Homo sapiens: one gene and its partner. The protein of the gene in region 1 interacts with the protein of each later gene in a pairwise test. Each region holds a gene or a part of one and is shown on either strand. Other genes may lie near its edges.

Region 1 (5,534 bases):
GGGTGCGCTCAGCCTCCATTGCCTAAGCTTTCCGGCCAGGCCCTGCTGGAGAGGTGAAACTGCCCCTCCGCCAGGCCCCCCGCCCCCAGCGGCTGAAGGGGGTGGAATACGTCATTCCTCTCCCCTATTGCGAAAGTGAGCCTGGATTGAGGAAACCACCGCTGTCTCATCAGCCGCCCTCCCCCAGCCCTCCAAGGGCCAGGACAGCTCCTGCTACCACAGGGGCAGGGGGTGGGGGAACCGCCCAGGAGTACAAAGGAGGCGAGGTCATTCTCTGTCTCTCTGTCCCTGTCCATCTGTCTGTCTCTCTCGATGATGTCTCTCAGTCACCCCCACCCCACAGAGACAAAGGGTGGGGCAGGGCTAAGGTGGGAGCAAGGTGGAGAAAAGGGACAAAGAGGAGAGACAGGGCCAGCAGTGCCAGGGAAACTGGAGCCGTGGCCGGCACAAAAGACGGTGGCCAGGGAGTAAGGGGATGGCTGAGCCCAGCACAGAGCCACAGAGGGGACAGCTGCTTCCCGACATGAATCCTCCCAGGCCCTCACCCACCCAGGGAACTTTATGGTTCTGGAATGGCCCCAGCGGCATTTCTAGGGGCAGTAACTAGTCATAATGACATCTCCAACAGTCAGGTGGCCAGCTCCACCAGAATGCCTACTGTGCAAGGCACTGCTCCGAGCCCTGCGCGCCGACGACTGCCTTCCACCCTCACTGCCGTCACTGGCACCGTTAACATTCCCACCTCACAGGTGCAGGCACAGATTAGTTTAGTGACCTGCCCAAGGTTACGAAGCCAGTAAGAGGAGAGCTGGGCTGGCTTTGAGCCTGGAGCTGACTCTGAGCCACCACCTGGGTCCACTCCCCCAGGACAGCCCCCTGGTTGTTACTGCCGAGGGGAGGCCTCTGCTGGGGCCTGGAGCACCTGTCTGAACAGTGGTGGAGGGCAGGGTGCCCATGCCCCTTCCCCACCTGGGCCTTCTCAGGCCCCCAGGCCCACATGCCAGCCTGCCAGACAGGCTAAATTTAGGCTCAGAAATCAGAAATAGCTCTGACAGCGCCGAACACTAATTAGCAGCTGCTCCTCAGCTGTGGCTGTGCCCACCGAGGAGCCAGGCACTCCAGGGAGTAGGAGAGGGGCCATCAGATGCCACTCACTCGGGGTGGAGTGAGGCCACCCTGAAAACAGGAACAGACCCCCAGACCAGGGCCTTCAGCGAGGCAGCAGCACCATGGGATGGGGGGCTGGGGGACACACGGAGAGTTGGCTGACAGTGCTCAAGTAGGAGGGGAGGGGCTGGCAGTCCAGGTGGGCGGGATACCTGCCTCCTGAGGGGGGCAGGGAGGGACAGCTATGAGCTGCCACATGGAGGACCTGGAGCTGGCTTCAAAAGACCCAGGCTCTGGGCCCAACTAGCCCTACAGCTTCTTTGCCCCCTTGGACCTCAGCTTCCTCCTCCATAAAATGGGCGCACTCCCTCACCGGAGCCTCACACTCACGGAGCTCCTGGAACACTCAGTGAGAAGCTGAGTTTGGATTTAACAAAGCTCTTCAGTGGCCTAACACTATGAAGAAGCACTTCACAGAGGCAGAAGAGGTGGAGGGGCAGGGGTCCATGGAAGACCCCAGGGTAGGGGATGGTAGGGTGAGCAGAAGTTTGTGAAAACATCCAGAAACACAGACTTGTCTCCAAGGCTTTGGCCAAACCTTAACTAGCCTCAGCCTACTTTCCCTGCTGCCTTTAGTGCTTTGGGCCAGATGAGGAAAGAGACAGGATTCATCTTTTAGGGTGTGGCCGAGAAAAGGAACTGATTCCCCACATCTTTCTATTAGAATGTGTGGGGACCATTCTCCTCCCTCCCTGCCCTGAGTGTGAGAGGGGACCCCCAGCATCTGCTCACCTAAGACCAGCCCCCAAAAGACACTGCTAAGAGCCCTTCCCCCACCTCCCCCACACCAGTGCTTACTTCTGAGACAGTGTCCCAGGAGGCTGAAGGGGCTGCGTCCACATCTGGACACAGCCACACCCTAGGGTTTCACTTTCAGTTTGAGCGGAGCCTACGTCTCAGTCCACCTGCCCATCTCTCCCTATGGCCTAGCCCTTCAAGCCCCAGGGTACCCCTGAACTTGGACATCAATCCCAGTCTCAGGCCAGCCCCACAGGCTTTCCTCAGCCCGATGGGCCCAGAAGCTGAGCCTGTCCCCCAGCCCCCACTCCCCCATCCATCTCCCTGCCACCTGCCCACCTCTATATGGTCTCAACCTTAGTTGTAGTGTTCTCGGCACATATCCAAACACAATCAATTTTACCTCCTTTTTTAAACTTTGGCATATAGATTTTCTGGGGCTCTTATAAGCAATTCCAGGCTTACAGGAGATCTATGAGGAGACCCAGCCCCAGGATCAGGTGCTGAGGACCCAAAGAGCTAACAGCTTCTCCCATCAGAGTTCAAGGGTCCCCACAGCTGGGACAAGGGCAAGCAGGGTGGAAGCCACTACCTATATCATCCAGGCTGGTAGGAGGAAAACAACACCGACAACAGTAACAATAACAAACGCTCCCCAGACACTTTTTTTCACTCAGAATTAATCTCTCAATCCCAAACACTGGGTGCTAGGTGCCGTTCTAAGCACTTTACATCAAAACTCATTTAAACCTCAACAAGCCTACAAAATAGATACTGTTATAATCCCTATTTCACAAATGGGAAACTGAGACTCAAGGAGGTTAAGGTGCTTGCCCAGGGTGGCCTCGGTGGCAAGCTAGCAAGGAAGACCCGGCTTCCTCCAAAGAAGGAGCAGCCGGGGAATGGGAAATGTGGGTCCTGGCCCCCAGGGGTCTTCTGCAGACAGCCTGGCCCAGATCCCCCATCTGAGGAACCAGGAACAGCCAGCTCCACTTCCTGCCACCCAGCGCCCCACGCTTCCTGTTGTTGCCCACACAGAGCTCTTACTCACTGGGGAACCCCCCCACCAGCACACCCTCTCTCAGGGGGAAGTGGAGGCCTCCCCTCCCCCTCCCATGTGCACACTGCTACCGTTAGCACCATCGCTGCCCCACCCTCCAGGAGAGGTAGGCCCTCCCTCCAGCGGTTTCCGGCCACCAGGCAGTTTTCGGTCTGGGCCCCACTGCTGGTGACCTGCATAACGGTGGGGAGGTTGCCTGGCCCTCACTAGCTAAGGATCTGGGGCTCCTGGGGAGTGCACAGTAACCTTGGGTGCTCTTGGTAGTGGAGGTGGAGGGAGGGGACAGGCAGGGTCTGGGCTCCCTCCGCTAAATGGGCCCTGAGATGGAGAGGACCAGATCAGCTCCAGCTTTATCCCCTTTCTCACAGTGGAGGGGGGTTACTGAGCATCTGCTCTGTGTCAGGCACTGTGCGAAGTCCTCTATTTCACCCTCTCGACAATCCTAGGAGGCCAGCAGATGCCATTATTATTCTCTTTTTACAGGTGAGGGAAACTACAGCTCAGAGAAGTTAAGTAACTTGTCCAGGGCCATGCAGGTAGTGACAAAAATGAATCTCAACCCCCAAACATCATGACCCCAAAGCTCAGGAAACGTCCCTGCCTTTCCCATAAGTAACCCCTGTCCCCTCAAAGGCCCCCCAAGCCACCTTCCAGGGCTCCATGTTCCCAGGAAAAAGGCAGAGGTAGCCCTGAGAGCACCTGCTTCTACCCGTCTCACCCAGCTCTCTGCCAGTCAGCCCCAGATGTCACTGTGAATCATGCCCACCACATCCGTGGCTTTCCAGGGTTAGTATGTGCCAGCCCTGCCTGCTGGGAATGTCACCCCTCCCCTCTGCCCAGCCCAACATCAGACCACATGGCCACATCCCCCCGGAGATCCTCTGTCCTGCAAATGGCAGGCATAAGGCCTGAGCGACCCCATGGCTCCAGGTCCCCACACTTCATCTGCCCTGTCCCGGAGGTGGGAGTGGCCAGGGGGCAGTGCCTCAGTTGCAGTCCCTCCTGCCCTTTACTGCCAGCCCCAGAAGGGAAGGGCCCCAGCTGCAAGCAGGACTCCAGGCCCACACCCAACATGGGGCCATCCTGACCTCCCCACACAGCCTGGCCAGGCACCCAGGCCTCTGGGCACAAGCCAAGAGCACCCATCAGGCAAATTCCTCTCCACTGCTACTGGATGCCAGCATGGCTTTTGGCCTCACGTACACCACCCCTGACACCTTCCCTTGATCCCTCTGCCCCAAGGTTATGGGATTCTCCCTGCCCGGCAGATCAGGGGTGTCCCAGGCCCAGGTGTAAGTGTGGCTCTTCTGGCAGGCCTGGAAAGGTCGCCTTGTCATCCCAGTCCCTGACCCTGCGTGCCTCCCAGGGGAAGGCATGAAGGGGCTGGAAGACACCCAGCCTTGGGCATGGGCGTAGGAGAGGCGAGAGCTTGGCGCCCCGCTGGCTGGTGTTCCCACCATCACAGCAGGCCCGTGGGGCTGGGCAGCCATCGCTCCTCTGCTGTTGCTAAGGCAGCAGCCGGAAACCCTGGCTCAACCTGCTCTTTCTCTCCACCCCCATTTTAAGCAGGGGGCACCCCTTTCTTTCACAGCTTTCTTGGAAAGGTAGCCCCCCACCACCCACCCTTGCATGGGAGAAGGGCTCCCTGCACCTCCTGTCTGGCTGTAAGTGGGGACACCCCTCACCCACAAGAGAGGTCCTACAGCCAGGAGAGGAAGGAGAGTTTGGGGTATCAGGATCCTATGCCCCACCAGGGACAAAAGGGGAAGGAAGAGGTTCCCTGGGGCCGCTGGACTACATCCCTGAGGGCAGGACTGTGCTTCTCCCATTGAGACTGGGGACCACTGATGGCGGTGGGCCCCTCCCCTCAGCAATCTAAGGTTCTTCTCCTCTTAGACACTGACCGAGGACAGGACTCAGCTCTGGCCATGGTGGTTCGGGTGGGGGTTCACATAGCGACCAACTCTGCGATACACACTGCCAGACCTGAGGGTTGAACCAACTCTTTAGCCCTGGGCAGCCTCAGGCAGAGGTCAAGGTTGTCACCCTGGGGCAAGCCTCATGCCCCTGCTGGTGGGGAATGAGAGGAACCAGGGTCTTAGCCAAGTGTCCTTAGATTGGGTTTAACCTGCCCACAACAGGATATAAGACAGGCTGAGCCACCCCGGGAAGAAGGTATAAACACACTGGGGTTCCTGGGCACCTGGTAGGGGGTAAGCCCTGGTGGGTGCTGCTACCCTAAATTTCTGCTAGGCACCTCCACTTTCTCCACCAGCACACCCTCTCTGACCCACCTGTGGGTGTCCCCCCTCCACATCCTGGTACTCAGGGACTCCCAGTGGCATTTAGTGTCAGACTCAGCCAATCACAGCCACAAATCCAAGCAGGGCAAACAAGTCCTACACACACATCAGAACCTCACCATTTGACTTGTGGATTTTCCCCTGGTCTGAATTATTCACAGGGCTCCTCCCCATCAGCGTGCTAAACAGAAGATTGGGGTCAGGACCTCACCCCAAGAGCCCACACCCGCGACCATAGACACACACTTGGCGGAAAGACAGACCCA
Region 2 (4,623 bases), on another chromosome or scaffold:
GGTGGTGTGTGCTACTTAGGAGGCTAAGGTGGGAGGGGTGCTTGAGACCAGGAGGTCAAGGTTGCAGTAAGCCAAGATCTTGCTTAGATTAGAATGCTGAAGGCTACCTGGTAAATGTAAAGGGAGTGCTGGAGTTGGAAAAATCATCACGTTGTAACCATAATGATAAAGATTAAATCAGGCAAAAATAATCAATGGATGCTAAATCTAGGGGAAAATGTTGATGTAAAACAGGCTGTTTGTATGTTCTTAAATCGTCTCCCCATAGATTACTTATTAATGACAAAGGAGAATTTAAATAATGTACCAGGTAAGCAAAATTAACATTACTAGTGAGAAACAAAAGGACATTGTGTGCCTGCATATGTGACATATTGAGAACACACCACCACCTATGCAAGTAATCCCACCAAGAATGCGCAACCTCAATCTAATCACAAGGAAACATCTGAAAAATACACAATGAGCAATGTTCTGTTAAAGGTAAAAGCAGCGGGGGAAGCAGAAGGGAACTGTATTTTAAAAAAATATCAATGTTATAAAAGAAAAAGAAAGATTATGGAAATATCCCAGTTTAAGCTAAAGAAACTTGACTACTAAACACAAAACCTGACCCTAGACTGGAACCTGTTTTGGAAGGGAAAAATGTTATAAAGAAATGACATTCAGTCAACATATAGATGACAGATTAAAGCACTGTTAATGAAAAATTATGAAATTGATGACTACACTATGGTTATATAAGAAAATATTCTTTGACATACACACTGAAATATCCTGGGGGTAAAGGGCTACAATGTATATAATTTATCCTCACATGATTAAAACAAAATTTTGTGTGTGTCTGGGTGTACACATGCAAGTGTGTGTGTGTGTGTGTGTGTGTGTGTGACAGAGAGAGAGAGAGAGAGAGAGAAAGACTGAGCATGCAAAAGTATAAGAAAGACTGAGCATATAAGTGCATATGCAAATGGAGAAATGGAATAAAATGTGTTAACAATAGGTGAATCTGGGTAAAGAGTGTTGGGATGTTCTTTGTATTATTTTTATGTTTGTAACTTTTTGTGTATTTGAAATTATTTCCAAAAAAAGTTAAAAAAACAAAAACAAACACAAAACCTTTGTCCTACGTAATAGTGGTTATCCCAAGAAATAAGCACTGTTATTTTTACATTTTTGTTTATACATTTCTGTATTCTCTGAAAAGAGAATAATGAGCACATATTAATTTTAAAATAAAGAAAAAAAAGAAAAGAATAGCATAGTATGTACAGCCCACTATCCTTTTATACAGTAGCGCCAAAACAATGGATGATATTCACTGCTTTCTACTAGCTTGCTACCACAAACACAGAGCTTCAAAAGTTGCAACTGAATCTGATCTCTTTGAAAATTTCTGAATTCAATTAATTCCCAGGAGAGTATTTCTCCATTTGGTTTTAGTGTGTCTGGAATCCTTTTTAAAAAGTGTAAGTCATAAAAGAGTTTAAGACGTAAAAGAAATACAGATATCTTTCAGATGCTGGGAATGCTGGGAACTTTTAACCCAAAGCAGCTCCCACAACCATGACCACTGCTCAGCTTTAGTGGTACTTCAACCAGCTCATGGCTATCTTGTCCTTAATTCCTTTCAAATCTCTCTAATGAACGGATTCATTTCAGTTTGCCCATCAGGTTAGTTTCTGTCTTAGAGGAGAAAGAATTCAAGTTGTTCTTGCTTTATTTTCAATAGTAGGTTAATTTGCCAGAACTCTAGTTAAAAAAAGTATTAAAGCAGTAACATTTTTTCTTAAAAATCTTATGTGAACTGCAGAATTGTGTCAAGTGACTTTTTCTCATTTAATTCACGACTTTTCATTTAACTCAGTGGAATACATTTTATTGACAGATTTCTTAATACTGAACCACTTAAAACAATCTTATGTGAACTCAGCGTATAAAAAGTGGTGTTGCTTTGGTTGAGGGGAGTCCTAGACTCCTTCCCTGCTCACACCCCTCTAGCAAATAGTTTAAAAATCACTAGGCTAGAGAAAATTGCTATGATGGACCCTGCTATTCTGGTCTCCTAGGCACTGTGACAAAACTGCAGAATCAACTGTCCATCCTCTTTGCTTTTCTTATATAAGTTATTTCTGAGATATAATCAAAACCAAACAAAGAGTCAGGAATAGGAACAATTACCTGTTTTTCCTCAGGAGGCAGTTTACTCCATTCATTGCCTAACATCCTTGTGATTTCTGGAAATGGGACTTCTGGTCTCTTTGCTCGAAGTTGTTCTCGACGCTCATTCATGAACCGAACATATCCTGTAAGGGGGGATTTGGGTGCATTGCTGTCTCGAAGAGGTTTCTTCCTCTTTCTTCCTTTGGACCAACCTCCTCGTTTACTTCGTTGCTACAAAACAAAACAAAATAAAAAACCAAAAACCAAACAACAACCATCTCCCAAAATAACCCAACAACAACAAAAACAAACAACAACAAACAAAACAGGATTAAGAGTTGCAATTTGGCCCTGGATATTCAAAGCTCTCCACATCTGTTGTAGGTAATATACAAATGACAGCAATGCAATTTTTGAGGAACTCCAGATGCTTCACTTGCAACCTCTTTTATGTATCACACTACAAAATGTTACACTAAAGGGCTATTTTTGTGCTAATCTCAATGTATGAGAATAAGAGGTGCCATGATCACTCAGCTTTGACCTTCATATGCATATGACTGTCCCACAGACAACTGTCAGGTCCTGATTCCTGACAGGAGAGTATCCAAATGGGAAATACAGCAGCACATGCAGCATTGTGGCAGGGAGGCAGACATTGTCAGATTAGAGTAAGATGGTGTCACGTGCACCAGGCAAAAGAAGAAACAAGTTGTAGCAGAAATTAAAAATAACTCACAATGGGAGTTGCTCATTGATAACTTTCAAAGACTAGCTTATTTCCCATAGCAGATAGCAGATAGCATAGCATAGCAGATAGATACTAAATTAATATCTAAGTCTCAGAAAAATTTTAGTAAGTATAATATATCTGAAATGAAGACGAGCTCTTTGGCTTGACAATTTGTTCCTTTAGATGTACATTTTATTTTAATTTTTTTTTTGAGGTAGAGTTTTGCTCTTCTTGCCCAGGCTGTAGTGCAATGGCGCTATCTCGGCTCACCGCAACCTCCGCCTCCCAGGTTCAAGTGATTCTCCTGCCTTAGTCTTCCAAGTAGCTGGGATTACAGGCATGTGCCACCACACCCAGCTAATTTTTGTATTTTCAGTAGAGATGGGGTTTTGCCATGTTGATCAGGCTGGTCTCGAACTCCTGACCTCAGGTGATCCACCAGCCTCAGCCTCCCAAAGTGCTGGGATTATAGGCGTGATCCACTGCACCCGGCCTAGATGTACATTTTATAGTCAGAGGTCTTTATATGTTGAGTTACCAGGTAAATCAAAAGATTGAATCACCTCTGAAAAAAACTAAAGAAATGAAAAGGACTGAGGTACCACTGATGTTTCACCACAGCCTTTCTTCTTGGCCCTTTAAATAAGATGTAAGGTACATAATATTTTTACTTCATAATTTTACAAATACAGCCGTATCAGTTAATATTTCATGGATACAAGAATTCTTATTTCAGACAAGAGAAATATAAATAAACAAGGACAAAAATATCTAAATACTAATTGTAGTACTCTACTCCTCCAAATATATATAAAATGGTATAATTCACCACTGGGCAAATTATGTATTTGGTATTAGGTTTTTCTTTTTTTAAACCTAGTTACATTAAAGCTACTGTGGGCTGGCACGGTGGTTCACACCTGTAATCCCAGCACTTTGGAGGGCCAAGGCAGGCGGATCACTTGAGGTCAGAATTTCGAGACCAGCCTGGTCAACACGGAGAAACTCCATCTCCACTGAAAATACAAAATTGCCTGGGCATGATGGCATGTGCCTGTAATCCCAGATACTTGGGAAGCTGGGGCAGGAGAATAGCTTGAACCTGGGAGGCAGAGGTTGCAGTGAGCTGAAATTGTGCCACCGCACTCCAGCCTGAGCAACAGAATAAGACTCCACCTCAAAAAAAAAAAAACAAAAAACAACAGAACAATTTAATTTCAAGGTATTTAAGAAACTTTAAGCATTCATTATAATCTTTAAAAATGCCAATAGGATAGATAAAAAAAAATTAGTTGTTTTTTTCTTTCTTTTTTTTTTTTTTTTTTTTTTTTTGAGACGAAGTCTCGCTCTGTAGCCCAGGCTGGAGTTCAGTGGCGCTATCTTGGCTCACTGCAACCTCTGCCTCCGGGTTCAAGAGATTCTCCTGCTTCAGCCTCCTGAGCAGCTGGAATTACAGGCACACACCACTGCACCTGGCTAATTTTTTGTATTTTTTAGTAGAGACGGGGTTTCACCATGTTGGCCAGGCTAGTCTTGAACTCCTGACCTCAGGTAATCCACCTGCCTTGGCATCCCAAAGTGCTAGGATTACAGGCATGAGCTACCATGCCCGGCCAGCTTTTTTAAAATAAGAAAAAAGACAAAAATCAATGGTGGCACTCTTTATTGGCTTAAAAAAAAAAAAGAGTGCCTTAAAACACTGACAATGTAATCAGTTATTTGTAAGA

Evidence for each region.
Region 2: the proteins of FMNL1 (region 1) and HMG20A interact in binary tests that used the Homo sapiens proteins (3 or more experiments, as listed by UniProt).

The regions. Positions count from the first base shown.
Region 1 is NC_000017.11:45,223,755-45,229,288, reverse strand, and holds part of FMNL1 (formin-like protein 1), read right to left. Parts: intron 1-5,534. UniProt on the Homo sapiens protein: May play a role in the control of cell motility and survival of macrophages. Plays a role in the regulation of cell morphology and cytoskeletal organization. Required in the cortical actin filament dynamics and cell shape.
Region 2 is NC_000015.10:77,464,866-77,469,488, reverse strand, and holds part of HMG20A (high mobility group protein 20A), read right to left. Parts: intron 2,395-4,623; coding exon 2,182-2,394; intron 1-2,181. UniProt on the Homo sapiens protein: Plays a role in neuronal differentiation as chromatin-associated protein. Acts as inhibitor of HMG20B. Overcomes the repressive effects of the neuronal silencer REST and induces the activation of neuronal-specific genes.